2 separate regions of the Homo sapiens genome follow, and region 1 is linked to region 2. Evidence: fine-mapped expression QTL. A gene starts in region 2. The other region holds a variant in brackets. All regions are shown on one strand. Distances are from middle to middle.

Region 1 (11,682 bases), 55 kb after region 2:
AGGTCCTCTAAACTGGTACCGAAACATGGAAAGGAACTGGAAGTGGGCTTGCAAAAGCTTGGGACGGAAGGTGAGTGCCAGGTTCAGTGTAGTCTCATCCACACCCCAGGACCCGCCCGCGGGGCTTCCCATTGGCCTGAGCTGATATGACCTGGGCCAGAGCTGGTTGTGGACAGATCTGCTGGCCACCTCCTTTCCCTTTGGGGTTTGGGAAGTGACTCCCTTCAGGGGTTTCCCTAGGATCTTTCTTGCTGGTGCTTCTCTTGGGATGGTAGAGGGTGACCTTGGGGATGGAGCTGGGGTGTGTCCAGGGAACTGCAGCATCCATCCGGAATCCCCAGGTCCCCTGGTGGTACCCCAAGGCAGGGCTGCAGATGGCCTGGGGCACCTCCCAGAAGTGACATGGATACTGGAGCCCCCAGCCCAGAGGAGCGTTAGGTGCTCTCAGAGATGTGACTTTAGCCTTCGGTTGTGTCACCTTGCACAAGTCAATCTCTGAGTCTCAGTTTCCTCATTTGTCAAGCAGAAGATGAGTTTCCAATCTCTGGGTCTGCAGAAGGAGTAATGGAGGTTCCCAGTTTACATTCAAAATGTTTAAAAATCTAAGGGAAATCTGTTCCCCAGTGTGACTGCACAGGTAGCTAGGCCTTCATCAGCTCACTCAGTAGCCATGGTTACCTTGTTGGTTCACTCTGTAAGTGAACACACTGCTACATGCCAGACTTCCTGCCAGACCCTGGGATACCATGGTGTGTAAACAGACCAGGTCTTGACCTCCCAAAATTAAGTCTTGAGGCACTAGAGTATATAACATCGTGGTTAAGAGCAGGCTAGGAAGCACATGGGCTGAGTCTAATCCCTGTGTGACCCTGGGAAAGGTACTTAACCCCTCTGATCCACTGTGGCTTCTTCTGCAATATGCAAGTGGCAAGAACAGTGCCTCCCTCACAGAGCTGTGTAAGGATGAAATGGTTGAAGGCATGTGACCTGTTACAAGCAGTACTGGGAACCTATTAGCTCCATTAGTGTTCCTTGTCATTATCATCATATGACCGATGAAAATGACCAAACTGCAGTTGGACAGACAAAATCTCTCAAAGCGTGGAGGAAAATATTGACAAAGGCGCTGGGAAGGTGAATCCCAATGGTGCTAAGGTCAGAAACCCTCCTCTTCTGCAGTTTATTTTTTGAGACAGTCTTGCTCAGTTGCCCAGGCTAGAATGCAATGGCACGATCTCGGTTCACTGCAACCTCTGCCCCCTGGGTTCAAGCAATTCTCCTGCCTCAGCCTCCCAAGCAGCTGGAATTACAGGAGTGCGCCACCACACCCAGCGAATTTTTTGTGTTTTAGTAGAGATGGGGCTTCACCATGTTGCGCAGGGTGGTCTCAAACTCCTGAGCTCAGGCGATCCACCCACCTCGGCCTCCCAAAGTGCTGGGATGACAGGCGTGAGCCACTGCACCCAGCCTCTCTTCTGCAGTTTCCAGCTGGATCTTCCTCTCTCCTCCCCCACCTCCTCCCATCCCATCCTCTCCCCCCCCCGCCCCCCGCCCAGTTCACATTTTAGCTTGGAACTTTCTAGAGTTTACAAACCTCATAGAAGCCTCAGGATTCGTTTTAGCCACAAAATCATTTTTGACCTTCTCCTGGCTCCTGGTTGTGGGAGGAGGGAGGGGTGTGGAGAGATGCCCATCACTCTGGGTGTAAATGAAAATAGTGCACGTTCCTCAACCAGGGATGGGTCAAAGCTGCTTGGAAATTAGGGTAATGGTGGAGCGAGAACAAAGGAAAAAACACAGAGGCTTTCCTGGCCTTCCTGTGCATGCCTCCCTGTGTTCAACTCATTTGCCAGCAATTGGAAGTTACTTTGCTGCCATTCATGTCACATTGATTACTACTGTGGCTGCCCCCATTTTCTCTGGAACCTTGGTCGCCCCTTTTAAGCATCTATTTAATTCAGGGAAGAGGAATCTTGATCTTCATTCAAGGGTGTCTTCTGCCTTCTTGGTGCCATCAATTCGGTTCTCCCAGTTACATGCAGCTCAGCACACGTTCTCACTCACACACATCTGCACACATAAGACCCATATTGGCCTCTGCACTGCTGAAGCTGTTATTTTAAAGATCTCCAGTAATAACCACGAGTCTGTTGTGCAAAGTTCGGCAGATACAACGTCAGGACCACAGCAGGGTGGCGAGCAGGGGTCTTTCAGAGGAGGAGGGAGGGCTTCCTTTGTGGAGTGCTGGCCACTTCTGTTTCCTGTTCTCCCCCCAGATCCTGATTCCGGCCCTGATGGTCACGGCGGAGAAGGACTTCGTGCTCGTTCCTCAGATGTCCCAGCACATGGAGGACTGGGTGAGGGAATGGCCCTGTACAAGGGTCATCAGTGCACCCCGGGAGAGGGCACGGGTGCTCAGAGGGAAGACGGCAGCAGAAGATACACCTTGTCATGTGGATAGGACCATGGTTGAAGCACATCATCAGTAACATCACTGTCCCCCCATTGCAAGCAGCAACCGTGACTGTACCTTCCTTTCCCCTGCATGGATGTGGGGTCTCATTCATTCATTATTCCCTTCCTAAATCATGCAGGGTTTGGGCAGGGTGGCCTGCGGGGAGCAGAGAGAAGGCGTCCATTGCCCATTGCACTAGCTAGAGACACACCCATCTGCCTTCTTCCATTTACCTTTCTGCCTGGGGTTTCCTTTCAGATTCCCCACCTGAAAAGGGGACACATTGAGGACTGTGGGCACTGGACACAGATGGACAAGTAAGGAGGTTGGGGGCTCCTGGGGTCGGGGAGAGCAGGGCCCCCCGTTCACCTTCCATAAAAGCTTTCCTGGTTTCATTGTGCTGGCTTTGGCCTGGCTTAGCCACTCATGTCACTCACCTCTGCCTTCGAGTTGGCTGGGTAGGTGCAGACAAGTGTGAATGGCTATTTTTTTCTTTTACTTCTCCCTTTCCCCCAGGCCAACCGAGGTGAATCAGATCCTCATTAAGTGGCTGGATTCTGATGCCCGGAACCCACCGGTGGTCTCAAAGATGTAGAACGCAGCGTGTGCCCACGCTCAGCAGGTGTGCCATCCTTCCACCTGCTGGGGCACCATTCTTAGTATACAGAGGTGGCCTTACACACATCTTGCATGGATGGCAGCATTGTTCTGAAGGGGTTTGCAGAAAAAAAAGATTTTCTTTACATAAAGTGAATCAAATTTGACATTATTTTAGATCCCAGAGAAATCAGGTGTGATTAGTTCTCCAGGCATGAATGCATCGTCCCTTTATCTGTAAGAACCCTTAGTGTCCTGTAGGGGGACAGAATGGGGTGGCCAGGTGGTGATTTCTCTTTGACCAATGCATAGTTTGGCAGAAAAATCAGCCGTTCATTTAGAAGAATCTTAGCAGAGATTGGGATGCCTTACTCAATAAAGCTAAGATGACTATGCTGCTGGCTGTCTTTGTTCTTGGAGAGGTGGAGTGACTGTTCACGGAGAATGCACGGCATGGGGATGAACCCTTTCCCTCTGCTTTTGAGCCCTGTTCTGGGCTCCAAGGTGCTGTATGATCTAGGCCGTGCTGGCCAGGAGACAATCCTATGGGGATGGCAGTGGTGTCTTGTGCTCTGTCCCCTAGAGCAGTCACTGGCCACAGGTAGCCACCTGCCTTTCTCCCGGCTTCCCTAGCAGAGTTTGCTCAGGCACAAATGTGCACCTGGAGCATTTGAAATGTGCTAGTGAGGCTGAGGAAGAGAATTTTAAATTTCATTGAATTGTAATCAGTTTAAAGTTAAATAGCAGCAGCTGCCATGAGGCTCAGGCAGATCCAGCTCATCTTCCCCTCTGCCCCCTCCTCCCTATCTTCCCCTCTACCCTCTCCTGCCTCCTGTCACATCCGGTTAGGCTCCCATCTCACTGATGTGTCTCCTGCAGTGGTCTCTCCCCTGCCCTGCTTCCAGCCCCAGAGTCCTGGAGCAGCAGCCTCCTCACGGGTCTTGCCGCCCACATGGTTGGATCCTGAAACTCGCAGGGCCTCCCCCAACTGCCCCTGCCCACCCCCAGCCCGGCCCCATCACCCTCCAATTCCTAACCGCCCTCCAGCAGCACACTTGCAGGTGCTGATCCTCCTTGACCCTCTGCCTAACTTACCCATTCTTTGCCTGGAATATTCCTCCTGCCACCTCCTCCAAGCCCATAGGCTGGGTTCCGAGCCCTTTCTGCCTGCCCCCCTTGCATGGTTATCGGGCTCACAGATGCACGCACAATGGCCTCGCTGCTTGCGAGAGAAAGTGGTCCCTCCAAGCTGAGTTTGGCATGATGACGGGCATGAGTTGGCCAGGTCACAAGAGCCTGAGTATCTGTGTATAGGGAGAAAGCCAGGAGAGGTTTGAAATGGAGGCTGCTGGCATTTCTTCACTGCCCTAGTGCACCTGGAGTCTTCCATGCACCACCTCTGATCCTTCCAGAGAGTCCTTCCCATTTAACCGAGAGGGAAACTGAGGTTCAGATAATTTGCCCAGGACTGCTTGGCTAGATGGGGGCAGAGCCTGGATTCAGAAGCAGGCTTTCTGGCTCCTAAGGCTGAGCTTTTTCTACAAAAAAATGTTCTCGTCGCGCCACTGCACTCCAGCCTGGGCAACAGATTGAGACTCCGACTCAAAAAAAAAAAAAAAAAGAGAAGTTCTCCTTTCTAAATCTGGAGCCAGACCACCTAGGTTAGGCCTCCGGTCAGCTGCATACTCGCCTTGTGACCTTGAAAAAGGATATCTGTGCCCCAGTTCCCTCATCTATAAAAAAGGGGACGTTAGTAGGACCTAACTCATGGGTGGTTGTATCAAGTATGTTAATAATATGCACAGAGTTCTAGAACAGTGCTTGGCATGGAGGAAGTGCTATGGAAGTATCAGCTATAAGATTTCCAGTTTGTCTTAGGACAAGACCTCTAAGGGCTTTCCATTTCCAGCCATGCCACCACCATCTCAATCTTTTGCATCTGAGAATTAAAGGGCTAATTTAAAGGCAATCATGAGGACTGGGGGAAAGGCTTACACCAGATCACATTATTTTCCTAACTGGGTGTATTCAAGCTCATTTGTAAGGGAGCAGTTGGGGGAAAGGAAATAATCAAAACCTAAAA[G/A]CGTCCTTTACTGGAAGGAGCACAAACAGCAAACCTGTCTTCCCGAAAGTCTCGCTTTTAATATTCTATCCAGTCATCTCCATCAGCCATCAAAAAGGCCTCAGAAATTCTGCTCCTTTGGCAAGTAAGAGTTGAATAACTCCATTCCATAGCATTGCCAGAAAATATAACTGGTTATACAAGATTGAGGGCTGTATCGGTCTGTTCTCCCATTGCCATAACGAACTACTGGAGACTGGCTACTTTATAAAGAAAAGAGGTTTAATTGGCTCACGGTTCTGCAGGCTTTACAGAAAGCATGGCTGGGGAGGCTCCAGAAAACTTACAATCATGGCAGACGGTGAAGGGGAAGCAGGCACATCCTACGTGTCTAGAACAGGAGGGAGAGAGAAAGAGAAGGGGGAGGTGCTACACACTTTTATAAACAACCAGATCTCATGGGAACTCACCATCACGAGAACAGCAAGGGGGAAATCCGCCCCCAAGATCCAGTCACTGCCCACCAGGCCCCACTTCCAACATCGTGGATTACAATTTGACGTGAGATTTGGGTGGGGACAGAAATCCAAACCGTATCAAGGGCCATAAAGGACAGTGGACTGGAAGAGGTCTTTAGGTTTTTCAAGAAGATAGTGGAATGTCCAGGGCTATGTTTCCTGGTCTGCTTTGAGGACCTTTGGGCCACACGTCAACTGTTGCAGTGGTGGTATCAGGGCATTCCCTGGAACAATCAGGGAAGATTTTCAGATGCCATTTTAAGTACAAATGGCAAGGAGTGTGTTCAAAATGATTTAATTATAAAATGCTATATTTTGGGATTGAATTTAATTTGTAATTAACATACTAGTACATATTCATGGGGTACATAGTGATGTTTTGATACATATAATGTGTAGCAATCAGATCAGGGTAATTACACATGTCATCTCAAACATTTATCGTTTTTGTATTGAGGACATTTAATAACCTCCTTCTGGCTATTTAAAACAATGTATCATTGTTGACTGTAGTCATTGCTCAGTGCTATACAACGCTAGAACTTACTCCTCCCATCTAGCTGGAATTTGACATTCCTTAAATCCCTCCCTATCCCCCACCTCTTCCCCAACCCTTCCCAGCCTCCTATCCTCCATTCTACTTTTTACTTCTAGGAAATGAATTTTTTTTTAGCTTCTGCATGTGAGTGAGAACATGTGGTGTTTCACTTTCTGTTTCTGGCTTATTTCACTTAACAGAATGCTCTCCATTTCCATCCGCGTTGCTGCGAGAGACAAGATTTCATTCTTTTTTTGTGGCTGAATAGTAAAAATATGTTATTTTTATTTCATGATTACAAAGGGAATAGATTACAAGTATATTCCCCTCTGCTAAAAGAAATCGGCCCTTAAAAAAGAGGTCCAGCAGTCTTCATATTCTCTCTCACACCCTCCAGCAGTGGGTTGTGCTGCTCCCGGGAGGAGGCTGAGATCACTCACATATTCTGTCAAGGAAGGACCACTTAGTGGCTGTCAATTAGCAACATCCAAGGTTTCCAGGAGACCCGTCTTCTAAAAAGTGAGTCTATTAGACTAGACAGGACAAAAAGCTATTTCTGTCTGTCTTGGGGTATAGGGAACCCACGGTTTTAGACCTTGACATGACTGTCCACCAGTTTCCGTGTCGTTCACAGCCACATTACCATCAATACAAATTAAAAGCAAACAATGGTTAAAATATCTAGGTCAGAGGCTCAAAGGGTTTTTTTCCAACAGGAATTGGGTGACAAATATTATGCCTCACTGTTCAAAGGACTCCATCTGGCCACAAATGATAAAATACTTTCTTGCCTGAGCAATTGTAAAGTGTCAACTCCTGCACCCAAATGTGTAACTGTCTGTCTCCCTGTTAGACTGTGAGGGCCCTGAGATCGGGGGCTGCCTGTCTAAGTAATTCGTCCTGAAACCCAACCCAGCACTGGCCTGGCATATGTAAAATGCTCATTAGACGTTTGCTGAATAAATTGGAGAGTATATGCACAAATGGATGAATGGACAAATGCATTAGTTTCAAGTTAAAATAATTAAAATTTGATCGGGCATGGTGGCTCACATCTGTAATCCCAGCAATTTGGGAGGCCGAGGCGGGCGGATCACCTGAGGTCAGGGGTTCAAGACCAGCCCAGCTAATATGGCAAAACCCCATCTCTACTACAAATACAAAATTAGCTAGGTGTGGTGGTGGGCACCTGTAATCTCTGCTACTTGGGAGGCTGAGGCAGAAGAATCGCTTGAACCCAGAGGCGGAGGTTGCAGTGAACCAAGATCATGCCATTGCACTCCAGCCTGGGCGACAAGAGGGAAATTCCATCTCTATAAATAAATAAATAGCCTAATGTCCTCGAGGTTCATTCATGTTGTCGCATGTGTTGGAATTTTCTTTCTTTTTAAGGCCAAATAATATTCCATTGTATGTATAGACCACGTTTTGTTTACCTACTCATTCAGCAATGGGCACTTGGATGGCTTCCATATTTTGGCTATTATGAATAATGCTCTGAGCATCAGTGTACACATATCTCTTTAGGGCTCTGAATTCAGTCCTTTTGGGTATATATCAAAAAATGGAATGGCTAGATTATATTGTAATTTCTATGTTTAATATTTTGAAGAACCACCAGATGGTTTTCCATAGCTGGTTTCCATTTTCTGTTTTTTTAATATATAGAATGGCCATGTGATGTCCCATGATGGTTTTATTTGAATTTCCCTAATGATTAGTGATGTTGAATATCTTTCCTTTTTTTAAATTTATTTATTATTATTATACTTTAAGTTTTAGGGTACATGTGCACAATGTGCAGGTTAGTTACATATGTATGTATACATGTGCCATGCTGGTGTGCTGCACCCACTAACTCGTCATCTAGCATTAGGTATATCTCCCAATGCTATTCCTCCCCTCTCCCCCCACCCACAATAGTCCCCAGAGTGTGATGTTCCCCTTCCTGTGTCCATGTGTTCTCATTGTTCAATTCCCACCTATGAGTGAGAATATGCGGTGTTTGGTTTTTTGTTCTTGCGATAGTTTACTGAGAATAATGATTTCCAATTTCATCCATGTCCCTACAAAGGACATGAACTTATCATTTTTGATGGCTGCATAGTATTCCATGGTGTCTGTGTGCCACATTTTCTTAATCCAGTCTATCATTGTTGGACATTTGGGTTGGTTCCAAGTCTTTGCTATTGTGAATAATGCCGCAATAAACATACGTGTGCATGTGTCTTTATAGCAGCATGATTTATAGTCCTTTGGGTATATACCCAGTAATGGGATGGCTGGGTCAAATGGTATTTCTAGTTCTAGATCCCTGAGGAATCGCCACATTGACTTCCACAATGGTTGAACTAGTTTACAGTCCCACCAACAGTGTAAAAGTGTTCCTATTTCTCCACATCCTCTCCAGCACCTGTTGTTTCCTGACTTTTTAATGATTGCCATTCTAACTGGTGTGAGATGGTATATCATTGTGGTTTTGATTTGCATTTCTCTGATGGCCAGTGATGGTGAGCATTTTTTTCATGTGTTTTTTGGCTGCATAAATGTCTTCTTTTGAGAAGTGTCTGTTCATGTCCTTCACCCACTTTTTGATGGGGTTGTTTGTTTTTTCTTGTAAATTTATAGGAGTTCATTGTAGATTCTGGATATTAGCCCTTTGTCAGATGAGTAGGTTGCAAAAATTTTCTCGCATTTTGTGGGTTGCATGTTCACTCTGATGGTAGTTTCTTTTGCTGTGTAGAAGCTCTTTAGTTTAATTAGATTCCATTTGTCAATTTTGGCTTTTGTTGCCATTGCTTTTGGTGTTTTAGACATGAAGTCCTTGCCCATGCCTATGTCCTGAATGGTAATGCCTAGGTTTACTTCTAGGGTTTTTATGGTTTTAGGTCTAACGTTTAAGTCTTTAATCCATCTTGAATTGATTTTTGTATAAGGTGTAAGGAAGGGATCCAGTTTCAGCTTTCTACATATGGCTAGCCAGTTTTCCCAGCACCATTTATTAAATAGGGAATCCTTTCCCCATTGCTTGTTTTTCTCAGGTTTGTCAAAGATCAGATAGTTGTAGATATGCGGCGTTATTTCTGAGGGCTCTGTTCTGTTCCATTGATCTATATCTCTGTTTTGGTACCAGTACCATGCTGTTTTGGTTACTGTAGCCTTGTAGTATAGTTTGAAGTCAGGTAGTGTGATGCCCCCAGCTTTGTTCTTTTGGCTTAGGATTGACTTGGCGATGCGGGCTCTTTTTTGGTTCCATATGAACTTTAAAGTAGTTTTTTCCAATTCTGTGAAGAAAATCATTGGTAGCTTGATGGGGATGGCATTGAATCTGTAAATTACCTTGGGCAGTATGGCCATTTTCACGATATTGATTCTTCCTACCCGTGAGCATGGAATGTTCTTCCATTTGTTTGTATCCTCTTTTATTTCCTTGAGCAGTGGTTTGTAGTTCTCCTTGAAGAGGTCCTTCACATCCCTTGTAAGTTGGATTCCTAGGTATTTTATTCTCTTTGAAGCAATTGTGAATGGGAGTTCACTCATGATTTGGCTCTCTGTTTACAGTCTGTTGTTGGTGTATAAGAATGCTCGTGATTTGTGTACATTGATTTTGTATCCTGAGACTTTGCTGAAGTTGCTTATCAGCTTAAGGAGATTTTGGGCTGAGACAATGGGGTTTTCTAGATATAGGATCATGTCATCTGCAAACAGGGACAATTTGACTTCCTCTTTCCCTAATTGAATACCCTTTATTTCCTTCTCCTGCCTAATTTCCCTGGCCAGAACTTCCAACACTATGTTGAATAGGAGTGGTGAGAGAGGGCATCCCTGTCTTGTGCCAGTTTTCAAAGGGAATGCTTCCAGTTTTTGCCCATTCAGTATGATATTGGCTGTGGGTTTGTCATAGATAGCTCTTATTATTTTGAAATATGTCCCATCAGTACCTAATTTATTGAGAATTTTTAGCATGAAGAGTTGTTGAATTTTGTCAAAGGCCTTTGTGCATCTATTGAGATAATCATGTGGTTTTTGTCTTTGGTTCTGTTTATATGCTGGATTACATTTATTGATTTGCATATATTGAACCAGCCTTGCATCCCAGGGATGAAGCCCACTTGATCATGGTGGATCAGCTTTTTGATGTGCTGCTGGACTTGGTTTGCCAGTATTTTATTGAGGATTTTTGCATCAATGTTCATGAAGGATATTGGTCTAAAATTCTCTTTTTTGGTTGTGTCTCTGCCCGGCTTTGGTATCAGGATGATGCTGGCCTCATAAAATGAGTTAGGGAGGATTCCCTCTTTTTCTATTGATTGGAATAGTTTCAGAAGGAATGGTACCAGTTCCTCCTTGTACCTCTGGTAGAATTCAGCTGTGAATCTATCTGGTCCTGGACTCTTTTTGGTTGGTAAGCTATTGATTATTGCCACAATTTCAGAGCCTGTTATTGGTCTATTCAGAGATTCAACTTCTTCCTGGTTTAGTCTTGGGAGATGTATGTGTCAAGGAATTTATCCATTTCTTCTAGATTTTCTAGTTTATTTGCGTAGAGGTGTTTGTAGTATTCTCTGATGGTAGTTTGTATTTCTGTGGGATCAGTGGTGACATCCCCTTTATCATTTTTTATTGCATCTATTTGATTCTTCTCTCTTTTTTTCTTTATTAGTCTTGCTAGCGGTCTATCAATTTTGTTGATCCTTTCAAAAAACCAGCTCCTGGATTCATTAATTTTTTGAAGGGTTTTTTGTGTCTCTATTTCCTTCAGTTCTGCTCTGATTTTAGTTACTTCTTGCCTTCTGCTAGCTTTTGCATTTGTTTGCTCTTGCTTTTCTAGTTCTTTTAATTGTGATGTTAGGGTGTCAATTTTGGATCTTTCCTGCTTTCTCTTGTGGGCATTTAGTGCTATAAATTTCCCTCTACACACTGCTTTGAATGCGTCCCAGAGATTCTGGTATGTTGTGTCTTTGTTCTCGTTGATTTCAAAGAACATCTTTATTTCTGCCTTCATTTCGTTATGTACCCAGTAGTCATTCAGGAGCAGGTTGTTCAGTTTCCATGTAGTTGAGCAGTTTTGAGTGAGATTCTTAATCCTGAGTTCTAGTTTGATTGCACTGTGGTCTGAGAGATAGTTTGTTATAATTTCTGTTCTTTTACATTTGCTGAGGAGAGCTTTACTTTCAAGTATGTGGTCAATTTTGGAATAGGTGTGGTGTGGTGCTGAAAAAAATGTATATTCTGTTGATTTGGGGTGGAGAGTTCTGTAGATGTCTATTAGGTCCGCTTGGTGCAGAGCTGAGTTCAATTCCTGGGTATCCTTGTTGACTTTCTGTCTCATTGATCTGTCTAATGTTGACAGTGGGGTGTTAAAGTCTCCCATTATTAATGTGTGGGAGTCTAAGTCTCTTTGTAGGTCACTCAGGACTTGCTTTATGAATCTGGGTGCTCCTGTATTGGGTGCATATATATTTAGGATAGTTAGCTCTTCTTGTTGAATTGATCCCTTTACCATTATGTA
Region 2 (11,682 bases):
GCACTCCAGCCTGGGCAACAGAGTGAGACCCCATCTCAAAAAAAAAGAAAAAAAAGAAAGCAGTTTCCTCAGGGGAGAGCCAGGTTTCGGGTACAGCAGGAGGGGAAGAGAATGGAAAAGAGGTTGAGGAAATGGTGAATTATGCTGATAATAAAACCAAGTTCCAGAAAGTTCCAGATGGCACAGTAGAAGGGTTTTTGGAGTTGGTGAAGAGTGAGAAGTGCCTACTCTGGCTGACTTAAGCACAGAATTTGAGGGCAGGATATCAGTGAGGGCCCTTGGGAGCTTGGAGAACTAAGCCTGGAAAACAAGAGCAAGGTCATTGCCAAACTCATAGCACAGAACTGGACTTGTGAAGACACCACTGCTGCAGTTGGGCGCTGAGGGCCTCGGGGCCTGCACCGTCCCTGCCAGCCAGGGACCCTGGCCGCTGCTGCTGCTGCCCTTGAAACTGCCGACCGACACCCTTCTCCTCTGGCCTGTTTCCTTCACCTGCTCCCACTGTAAGGGCTGGGTTGGTGCACCTGAGTTGCTGAATGGAGCTCACAGGCCTTCACTCTCACTTCCAGGCAGGCTGGGGAGTGGGCACAGGGCATTTCCAAATTCTGCAGTCAATGCGGTTCTTCCTTCTATCAACATTCATAAGGCCGGTATGCGTTATAGGGTTTTTATTACAAACTACAGAGCTTCCTCTCGGTCATATAAGCAGAAAGGTTCTTATTATAGGACATTAACACACAGAATCTCAGGGAGGACAAGAGATGCAGCTTTGGAAACTATATAGCCAAGAACAGCACAGTGACCGCAGGCCACCCCTTGGTGCAATTTTAACAAAGCCACCACTCTGCCCCAGCGTGGGCACCAAGTACACTCAGGACCAGACCAGAGAAGCTCCATCACAGCCTCCCCAGAAAAACTAGATGCTGCTGCTTCTGCCTTCGCTGAAAGAAAGTTCCCGCTCACACAGCTGTGGCTTTGGGCTGCCCATCCCCATTCCCAAATCCCTGGCGAGTATGCCCAATTGGCAGAGCCCGTGCACCTGGCCAGCATTAAGGAAGCCTGGGCAACATGTTGTTTGTGGATTCTACTGTGAGAAGGTAGAACTCAAAACAGTAGTAGTTCTCAAACAGTGAGAACTATCAAAATAGAAGATGTTGAAAGGATGTTGTGTATCTCTGAAGCAGAACTTCATCACTGCCAGATGGAATTTTCTCTTCTTCTCTACTCTACTCTTCTCTTCTCTTCTCTTCTCTTCTCTTCTCTTCTCTTTTCTCTTCTCTTCTCTTCTCTTTTCTTTTCTTTCTTTTGACAGAGTCTTGCTCTGTTGCCCAGGCTGCGAGTGCAGTGGCATGATCTTGGCTTACTGCAACCTCTGCCTCCCGGGTTCAAGCAATTCTCCTGCTTCAGCTTCCCAAGTAGCTGGGATTACAGGTGTGTGCCACCACGCCCAGATAAGTTTCGTATTTTTAATAGAGACGGGGTTTCCCCATGTTGGCCAGGCTGGTCTCCAACTCTTAACCTCAGGTGATCCACCCACCTCAGCCTCCCAAAGTGCTGTGATTACAGGTGTGAGCCACCATGCCCGGCTGGAATTTTCTGTATGTAAGAAAAGGTTATAGATGTTAGGAAGCTGGAAAATGACAAATAAGAAAAACGGCAAGTAGCCACCACCACTATTCCCAATCTCATTCTTCTCACTGCTCCAGAAGCCACCAGCCACTACCATTTGAATTCATTATTCCACTAAAATGGAAGATCCTTGACGGCCCCTATATTTGTCTGATTTATTTAACAATTGATCCCAAGTGCCTAGAACAGTGCCTGGCACATAGAAGATGCTTGATACATATTTGCTGATGGAATGAAAGACGCTCGTTCATTTGCCGCATTGAAAAAAAGACAAAACTTCAAGTGGTTTGTAGGTTTAGAAAACTGCCAGAGGTAGCTTTACTTTGAACTCCATGAGTATCTACAGTAGAGAGAAGCAGCAGTGTAAAGTCCTCCCTCCCAACCCCTAGTGGTTAAACAGATTTTATAAAATAGGGTTTGACAATCAAGGACTAGCAGGAAGTTGCAGAAGGCACAGGAATGGCAGAAAACCCAAAATAAACCTTAATGAGGTCAGTGTACATTCATTATGAATTTAGTGATTGAAATCAGGTGTAATTTATAAATTTTCACTACTACATTAGCCATCTTTTATGATTCATGCTATCACCTAAAACATATTTCATAAATATTAAAATTAGAAGACATAGGGGTTAGGATTTACATTTCAAAAAGCCACCCAGTTCCCATAGCCCTGCTGGGTAAGCCCTTATCTCTCTGTACCTTAGTAGCAGAAAACACAGGAGAAGCACGACCATGAAAAAGGGCAAAGTGCAGTGAAATGCAATTGAGACCTTTAATCTTTGCCTAAGCAATTCAGCCAGAAAGCTCTGTAACTCACAAGGCATTATAAAAATATTCCACACCAGAGCTATTTACAAGTTAACTGCTCCTGAATAAATAAAAGTCCATGTGATAGCTTCATGGCTTTCTCTTAACCAAAGAGGAAAGTAAAACTCATATTTCTATGTTTTTAAATTTTTCTTCTCAAAAGGGGGCTTTATGAAATCTAGTTCTGTAGGTATGTCGTTCCTCTACACTTTACTGCTTGTATAAATATACTTACGTATTCATAAGCAATACTGTGCTAGATGCAGAATTCAGATGCAGGCAACAGAAATCACTGTAGTTATTTTAAATAGAAACAGAAGAAAGGGATTTAAGATGAGAGACTGCAAGCCTACACAATCTTTGAACGGAATGGAGGAGTGAGCTCCAGACTGAGCCTTTAGGAAGGACTCCCAGAAAACACCACCATAGAACTAGAAGCTGCTATCTCTGCCTCAATCAGCAGGCCACCGCTAGAAACACGAACATATGGTTTGGCTGGGAGCCAAGGATCTGGAAGCAACTCCGTGGTCTCGGGACTGAGCCACTGAGTCAATGGGGATGCCAGTTTGTAAGATAGGGAACACACTAGGAGGAACAGGCGTGGGAAGTAGAAATGCAGAGAGAGTTCTGTTTTAGCCATGATAAATTTGAGATGCCTGTTAGACACTCAAGAGAAGATGTTCAGTAAGAAGTTGGATATTGACGTTGAGTAAGATGTTGAGTAAGAAGTTGGCAAGTCTGGAGCCCAAAGGAAACTCTAAGTTGGAGATTTAATTTCTTTCTTTTTTTTTTTTGGAGGTAGAGTCTTGCTGTGTCACCCAGGCTGGATGGAGTGCAGTGGCACAATCATGGCTCACTGCAGCCTCCACTTCCTGGGCTAAAGTGATCGTCCCACCTCAGCCTCCTGAATAGCAGAGACTACTGGCATGCACCACCATGCCTAGCTAATATTTTATTTTTATTTTTTATAGAGAGAATGTCTTGCTTTGTTGCCCAGGCTTGTCTCAAACTCCTGGCCTCAAGCAATTCTCCCACCTCAGCCCCAAAGTGCTGGGATTACAGGTGTGTGCCACCATGCCCAATCTGGAGATTTAACAGGTTTCATACTATATAGGTCAGGCTGCAATTTTCTTTCTATTTTTTAAAATTCAATTATACCTTTGAGATCAACTAACTTCATGAGAAACTAGCTTGCTGTACTCCCTTCTCTGCCTATCTTTCAGTCTTCAAATCCAGAGTAATCCAGTTTCTACCATAAAGGGCCCACAAAAAGTGTTCTGAAACATCCGGTGTCATCCAAGTCCAAAATTGGACAGCTTTTTTTTCAGTTCTTCCTGTAACATTTGGCAGTGTTGGCCACTCTCTGCTTCTTTGGCAAGAATCTCAGAAAACACTAATAACTGCTCCAGGCAGGAGCCTGGAAGAGGTTACCAAGCTAGAGAAGGAAGCAACAGCATAGCTTGCTAAGGGCAAACAGCCCAGAGGAAACCCACGGCTCTGGTCAATCCTGTTGTTGATTGCTAGATCCAGAGACTGTTGTAGACCTCCCAGTTACAGTGAGGTATCTGACAACCCCTCACAAGGTTCTTGAAGCTCCGTGGTGGAGGGTATCTTGGATAAATCCACAGAGACACATTCAAGAGTAAATTCTCCACTGTTGGAGACCTCACTCACTCTGTTTGGTCTCCACCAAAGACACGGTTTTTAATTCATGGAGCTGCACTACAACAGCTCAAGAACTCCCAGCCAAAGTTTTAGTTTTTCTAGGAACATAAACGAGCCAATAGTGTGGAAATCGGTGATTAAAAACAAACCTCGCACATTTTAAGACAGAATTATTACAAGTAGCATGTACAAAAGGAAAATAATAGCCTACATTTAGTTCTTCTAAGCTTCATTCCACAAGAGATTGAAATCGAAGTATTCTGGGCTGGCACACGATAGCTGGAACATCATATTTTATTCTAGAAACACATTTGCCTTGGCAAAGAAGAGCGTGCCTAGAGGAGTGGTCAGGATAGTGAGGGATCTGTGATCCTTCGTTCTGAATCTAGAAAAGTCACTGGATATGCCCCTCCCCCGCCCCCCAACACGGTCTTATGTTCTGAATGTAGAAGTCACTGGATGTGCTGACACACACACACACACACACACACACACACACACACACACACACACACACACACAGAGTCTGTGGCCTCTTTCCCAGGCATTCCAAGTCCAGCAAGTTCGCAGGGAGCTGTCAGTCCGTCCAGGAAGGCCCGGGCCTGGGTTTGCCTCTTCAAGCAGCTACTGCAGGGGCGTGGGGAGGGGGCATAAGAGACTTTGGACTTTCCTTTGAGACAGTAGAAAGCGTTACATCCAGAGGCGAGATTCTAGCCTGGGGTCCCCGCCTTCCCGGCCTCCTCTTCCTCTCCCTCTGACTCCCTTTCCTGTGCCCCTCCCCCTGCCTCTTTCCCGGCCAGAGTCCAGCCTTAACCCGGGCAGAGGGCGGAGTCCCGTTAAGGGGGTGTGGGGAGGAGGCGGGGCCAGGGCAGGGGCGGGGCAGAGCCGGGCCAAGCTGGGCGGGTCATGCGCCCTGGCCTTCGCGCATCTCCCAGGTTAGCTGCGTGTCCGGGTGCTAGGCTGCAGACCCGCCGCCATGACGCTGCGCGCGGCCGTCTTCGACCTTGACGGGGTGCTGGCGCTGCCAGCGGTGTTCGGCGTCCTCGGCCGCACGGAGGAGGCCCTGGCGCTGCCCAGGTAAGGGGGCCCAGCGCCGCCGCCGCAGTGGGTCGGGGCCTCAGGAGGCAGACCGCGCTGGGCTTGCAGCCCAGCTTTCAGATTGCTCCTGTGCCGGAGCCCTGCGAATCATGCGAATCATGAAACTGAAGACCTGGCCCTGAAGTCCCAGTGCATATGAGGAGATCCGTTGTCTTTCTAAATGTTCATAATTAAACGTTGCCAAGGTCTCCAAAATTGCTTTCTGTGAACTTTTCCAAAAGGGAGAGGAGTTACTCATGGAGCTTTGTGCTTCTGCTGCCTCCTGTCTAATGGGGTGGCGCTTAAAGATGCGAGCCGAGATTCAGGAGAGAAGAAAGTTCTCTCCCCAGGTGTGGGTTGCATGCTTACTTGTGTAATAGCAAACTGCAGCAACCGCCCAAAGCCACATCACTGGGAAATGGTAGATGGGGTGTGCAGAGTGAGAGCTCAGGGACTTGGGAAAACACCTGTTCTACTACATGAAAAAACCACCCCACCAGAATCTGAAGCTATTTATACAATATGGTTTCAGCTATGGAAAAAAGGTACATGCAGAAAAGTGCCTGAAAGAAATAGGCCAAAGTACATCAAATGAGATTAGGAATAATGTAATGATTTTCTTTCTCTCTCTCTTTTTTTTGTGTTTTTTTTTTTTGTAGTTTCCAACTTCTAAATTTATAAACAATGTATTATTCCCACATTCAGAAAGGAGAGAAGTATACTTATTTATAAAGTGAAAAAGAAGGCCAGGCATGGAAGCCATTGTTCATATCCTCCTTTTACATATGAGGAAACTGAGGCACAGAAAGAAACCAGCTGTCCAAATCACATAGCTGTTAAAGAGCAGAGCCAGAAATCCAACCCCAGTAGTCCATGTCCGGAGCCTTTGCTTTTAATATAGTAAGGAAGATGAGATGGCAAGTAGCTTGAGGGAAAGGCATGTAATCTCTGTGCTTTGGGAAGCTAAGGTGGGAGGATCACTTGAGGCTGAGAGTTCAAGACCAGCCTGGGTGAAAGAGCAAGACCCTGTCTCTCCAAAAATAAAAATAAAATTAGCTAGACATTAGTGCATGCATGTAGCCCCAGCTACTTGGGAGGCTAAGGCAGAAGGATTGCCTGAGCCCAGGAGTTGGAGGCTATAGTTGTGTCCAGAGTTGGTTCCTGTCGGTGGGTTCGTGGTCTTGCTGACTTCAAGAATGGAGCTGTGGACCTTCGCAGTGAGTGTTACACTCGTAAAGATGGCGCAGACCCAAAGAGTGAGTGATAGCAAGGTTTATCGTGAACAGCGAAAGCACAAAGCTTCCACAGCATGGAAGGGGACCCCAGCAGGTTGCCGCTACTGGCTGGGGTGGCCAGCTTTTATTCCCTTATTGTCCTCTCCCATGTTCCATTTCTGTCCTATCAGAGTGCCCTTTTTTCAATCCTCCCCGTGATTGGCTACTTTTAGAATGCTGCTGATTGTGCGTTTTACAGAGCGCTGATTGGTGCATTTTACAATTCTCTTGTAAGACAGGAAAGTTCCCCAAGTCCCCACTCGACCTAGGAAGTCCAGCTGGCCTCACCTCTCAATCCTCCCTCATAACAGGACACCCCACCTGCTACTGGGAACTGGGTGATGACCACTCTAGCTACTTCCTGCTGGATAGGGGCAAAGAAGGGGCCCTGCCGTTGTAGTGTCCTCCAGAGGGGAACTCTCTAGGCCAGTCAAAGGGCCAGTGGGTCAGTCTAGCAGTCCTCGGTAGAAGTTGTGAGTTAAGCTCATTTGGGGTTCCATTTGTAAGACCATCTGTAGCTTGATGGCCTTGATCCTGGAGGAAACAAATTTGAGGAGGAGGTTAAAAATACAGGGACTGAAGGTGAGTAATAGCAAGATGGCTGTCACGGGACCTAGAAAGGGGAGAAGCCAAGTCACCCAACTCCAGAGGTTGGTATAAGAATTTGAAAGGTGTTGTCTGGTTTCAGAAGCCTTTTCCTGTAAATGCCAGGCAGCATCCTGTACTATCCCTGACTGGTTAGTTTAAAAACAACACTCCTCCCCTAAGAAGGTGCAAAGTCCTCCTTTCTCAGCAGTGAGGAGGTCTAGACCTTAGCGGTTTTGGAGAGTCACTGTTGCCAAATAGTCTATTTGGGATTGTAGAGTAAGGATAGATTTATTTATTGCAAACTGTCTGAGAAATCCTTTGAGAGTGTATGGTAGTAGGATAATGAAGTAGTTAAACTGGCTATTCTGGTTCCTGTAGCAGTGGGCATTCCTAGCCCTATAAGTAGGGGTATTAGTTGTATGGTCCTGGGCTGACAGACTTGAGCTTTGAGGGGCACTGATAGGGTCTGATTTCCTGTGGCATTGTTAGTGTTGGGACTTAGGAGAAGGTGCAGGTGCCTGTCCAGCTGGTGGGAGGCAGATATAGGTTGAAGTTCCACATAAGAAGAATATGCCTTGGCTGGGTAGAATAAACTGGTTGTGTATGTTAAAAAGGTGTGTGAGTTTGTTTTCATTTTCCCACACTCCTAGAGTACTTGCCAAGGTAGCTCTGGTGAGCAGCTGGAAAGGGTGTTGGGAGCAGACTGAGTGGCTCCCTGTGCTCTATTTTCCCATTGGAGAAAAAACCGTTTTGTATCTACTAGGAACCATCCAAGAGAGTAATTGAAAGAGGGGATAAGAAGACATACACTAGTGGTGGGGGCGCTGCTGCAGGGGGTCCAGGGGTGAATGGTCATGCAGGGAGTATGTTTGCCATTACAAAACCCAGACTGTTTGTTAAACAGGGAGGAGGTGATGATTTTGGGGGGCCCTGAGAAGCAGACAAGCCATCTGAATGGAGGTGTTTGGGTGACTCAGGAGTTACTATGATCAGTTGGGGCTTGAAGTTATAGGGTGTAATTACACTGATGGGATAGTAGGTGCCCCAGGGGCAGGCCTGATAACAGGTTGTGTTGGATGCATAAAAGGGCTTGGAAAGTTAAGATGGTATTCGGTATTCGTGGTCACAAGGTCTTGTATGGGCTTTTCCTGAGGATTGTGGCCTCCAGGCACAGTGAAGGTGATATTGTATCTCTAGTGCCCTGGAAACTCCCTGAGTTACCATGGCTTTAAAAGCCAGACCATTGTCACTTTGTAAGCTTTGGGGAAGCCCAAATCTAGGAATTACTTCATGAATTAGGACTTTAACCACTTCTTGAGCCTTCTCTGTCTTGCAGGACAAGGCTTCATCCAATTTGCAAAGGTATCAACACAGACCAACAAGTATTGAAATCCCCTTGACTTAGGCATATGGGCGAAGTCTAACTGCCAGTCTTCTCCTAGATAGTGCCCTATTCTTTGTTCCCCCAGAGGGGCCTTATGATGGACCAAGGGATTATTCCTTTGGCACACCTCACAGGCTTTGACTACTTGTTGGATGGTCTGAAGGAGATTTGGCCCTGTAAATAGGGATTTGGCCATTTGATGAGTGTTCTCAATACCCATATGAAAAGTTTGGTGGAGGGTCTTAAGTATTTTCCACTGGCTGGCTTCGGGCATGAGTACCTTTCCCTCTTCTGTTGTTAACCACCTGGAGGGGAGAAAACTATGCCCCCATGAAAGTCCTCATTCTGTTTCGGTTGGGGAATACTGGGGCTTAATCTCTTGGAGAGGGTTGTTCCATACCAAGGGTCCTTCCGTAGGTATTTCTAATGGGAGGTTCCACCTGGCAGCAATTTTGGCCTCAGTGTCTGCCTAATGGTTTTCTTCTGCCTTTTCTCCTTCACCTTTTGATGGCTTTGGCAGTGTAAGACTGCCACCTCTTTGGGTTTTTGCACTGCGTGCAATAACTCCATGATTTCCTTGTGGTATTTAATGGGGGTTCCCCTGGAGGTTAGGAACCCCCTTTCCATATTGCAGCATTGGGCATGTAGGATTAGATAAGCATACTTGTTATCTGTATACACATTTATTTTTTTTTCTTTCCCAGTTCTAAGGCTCAGGTAAGCACCACTAGTTCTGCTAACTGGGTGCAGGTCCCTGGGGAAAGAGGCTTACTTTCAAGTACTGTTACATCACTAACTATGGTATAACCTGCCCTTCATATCCCATTCTCCACAAATGAACTTCCATTGGTATATAGGTTAAGGTCAGGATTAGCTAAGGGGACTTCTAAGAGATCATCTCGGGCAGCATAAGTCTGGGCTACAATTTGTTGGCATTCATGCTCGATTGGTTCCCCATCCTCTGAGAGAAAAGTGGCAGGGTTCAGGGCCACACACAAGCGCCTGGTATCTAAGCAGGCAGTTGTCTGACAGCCATAAATTTCCTTTGGCACCTAGTATGCCATTTACATCATTAGTAGTCCAGACAGTGAGATCCTTTCTTTGTATTATTTTGATAGCCTCCGATACTAAGATGGCCACTGCTGCAACTACCCATAAACAGTAAGGCCAGCCTTTTGCCACTACATCAGTTTCCTTACTTAGGTATGCCACTGGTTGTGGGGTTGTCCCACGAGTCTGAGTAAGGACTCCAAGAGCTATTCCTGCTCTCTCTGTGATGTATAAAGAGAAGTCTTGTCCTTTGGGAAGGCTTAAAGCTGGAGCTTGTACTAGGGCCTGCTTTAAGGTTTTGGAGGCTGTTTCTGCCTCTGGTTCCCATTCTACTAGATTAGTGTTTGCCCTCTGGGTCTCCTTGATTAGAGCATAGAGTGGCCTGGCCATCTCGCTGTATCTGGGGATCCATAGTCGGCAAAAGCTGGTGATCCCAAGGAACCCCCACAACTGTTTTAATGTCTTAGGGCAAGGACAAGCCAGTATAGGCTGTATTCATTCTTTGCTTAGAGCCCTGGTTCCTCTGGCTAAGATTAGGCCTAGATATTTGACTTGTAGGCAGAGCTGGGCCTTCAGTTTAGATGCCATGTACCCTTGATTAGCTAGAAAGTTCAAGAGAGCTAGAGTAGCCTGCTGGCATGAGGCTTTTGAACTGGTAACCATAAGTAAATCATCCACATACTGAAGGACCAGAGTGCCTGTACTTGAGAAGTGGCCTAGATCTTGGGCCAGTGCCTGACCAAACAGATGAAGGCTATCCCTAAACCCTTGAGGCAAGACCATCCACGAAAGTTGGGACGTGTGGTCTGTGGGATCCTCAAAGGCAAAGAGAACCTTGGAGTCAGAGTGCAGGAGAATGCAGAGGAAGGCATCCTTGAGGTCCAGAACAATGAACCATTCTGCTTCCTCTGGTATTTGAGAGAGCAGGGTATAGGGGTTGGGTATAGCTGGATATAGAGGAATTACTGCCTCACTGATGAGTCTAAAATCTTGTACTAGTCTCCACTGAACGTTCGGTTTTTGTACTCCTGGAATTGGGGTGTTGCAGGGACTGCTGCATTTTCTTACTAAGCCTTGAACTTTTAAATGTCTAAAAATATCATGTAATCCTTTATGAGCTTCAGGCCTTAAGGGATATTGCCTTTGATAAGGAAAAGTGGTGGGGTCTTTAACCTGATTTGGACTGGGCAGGCATTTTTTGCCCTTCCGAATTGTCCTTTCAATGCCCAGACTTCAGGGTTGATTCCCTCCTCAAGTAGGGGACAACAAATGGGTAACTTGTTCCCCATATTTATAGAGATAATATCTCTAGCTTTGGCTAATATGTCCCTCCCTAATAAGGGTGTGGAACTTTCAGGCACAACAAGAAAGGTGTGTGAAAAGAGCAAAGTCTCCCAATTACAACTGAGAAGGTGGGAAAAATAGCTGGTTACAGGCTGTCCCAGGATTCCTTGGATGGTAACAGACCTTGAGGACAGCCATCTGGGGTAGGAGATTAACACTGAGAAGTCTGCACCAGTGTCCAGGAGGAAGTCAATTTCCTGGCCCTCAATGGTTAAACTTACCTGGGGCTCAGTCAGGGTGATGACATGAGCTGTCACTTGCCCTGGGCACCCTCAGTCCTGTTGTTGGATCATCCGGTTGGGGGCTTCTGGCCCAGAGAACCTTTGTCCTCTGGGGCAGTGTGCCTTCCAGTGATTGCCTTGGCATAGTGGACATGGGTGAGGGGGCAGCTTGTTTCTTGTTGGACAATCTTTTTTAAAGTGTCCTTGCAAAGCACACTGATAACAAGCCCTACTGGGTGATTGGCCTGCTCTGTTTTCTGTCTTCTCTGAACCACCAAGGTTTGTTTGTGTGAGGGACATGACTAAGGCTGCGGCCTTTCTCTTATCTCACTTTTCCTTTTTGGCCTGTTCCTCTTGGTCCCTATTGTAGAACACCAAGGTTGCCAGGTTTAATTATGCCTCCAAATTTTGTTCAGGGCCCAGGGATAGCTTTTGGAGCTTTTTCCTGATATCTGCGGCTGATTGGGTAATAAACTTATCTTTTAGAATCAATTGACCCTCGAGGGAGTCAGGTGACAGGGGAGTATATTTTCTTAAGGCCTCCTGTAGCCGCTCAAGGAAGGCAGTAGGATTTTCTACCTTTTCCTGAGTTATGGTGGACATCATTGAATAATTCATGGGCTTTTTCCTAATTCTCCTT

What was found.
Region 1: its variant is fine-mapped to the expression of EPHX2 in whole blood (INTERVAL, PIP 0.92).

The regions. Positions count from the first base shown.
Region 1 is chr8:27,541,473-27,553,154 of GRCh38, forward strand. It overlaps EPHX2 (epoxide hydrolase 2), which reads left to right. Exons shown (of 19, transcript NM_001979.6): 16 at 1-70; 17 at 2,277-2,357; 18 at 2,714-2,772; 19 at 2,972-4,092. The coding sequence ends at 3,050. Among named protein-coding and RNA genes, the nearest start is that of EPHX2, 56 kb to the left of the region's middle. The variant G/A (reference allele first, on the strand shown) is at 5,136.
Region 2 is chr8:27,486,129-27,497,810 of GRCh38, forward strand. It overlaps EPHX2 (epoxide hydrolase 2), which reads left to right and starts at 5,015. Exons shown (of 19, transcript NM_001979.6): 1 at 5,015-5,181. The coding sequence starts at 5,081. RefSeq lists a cis regulatory region at 2,758-3,072 and a silencer at 4,819-5,098.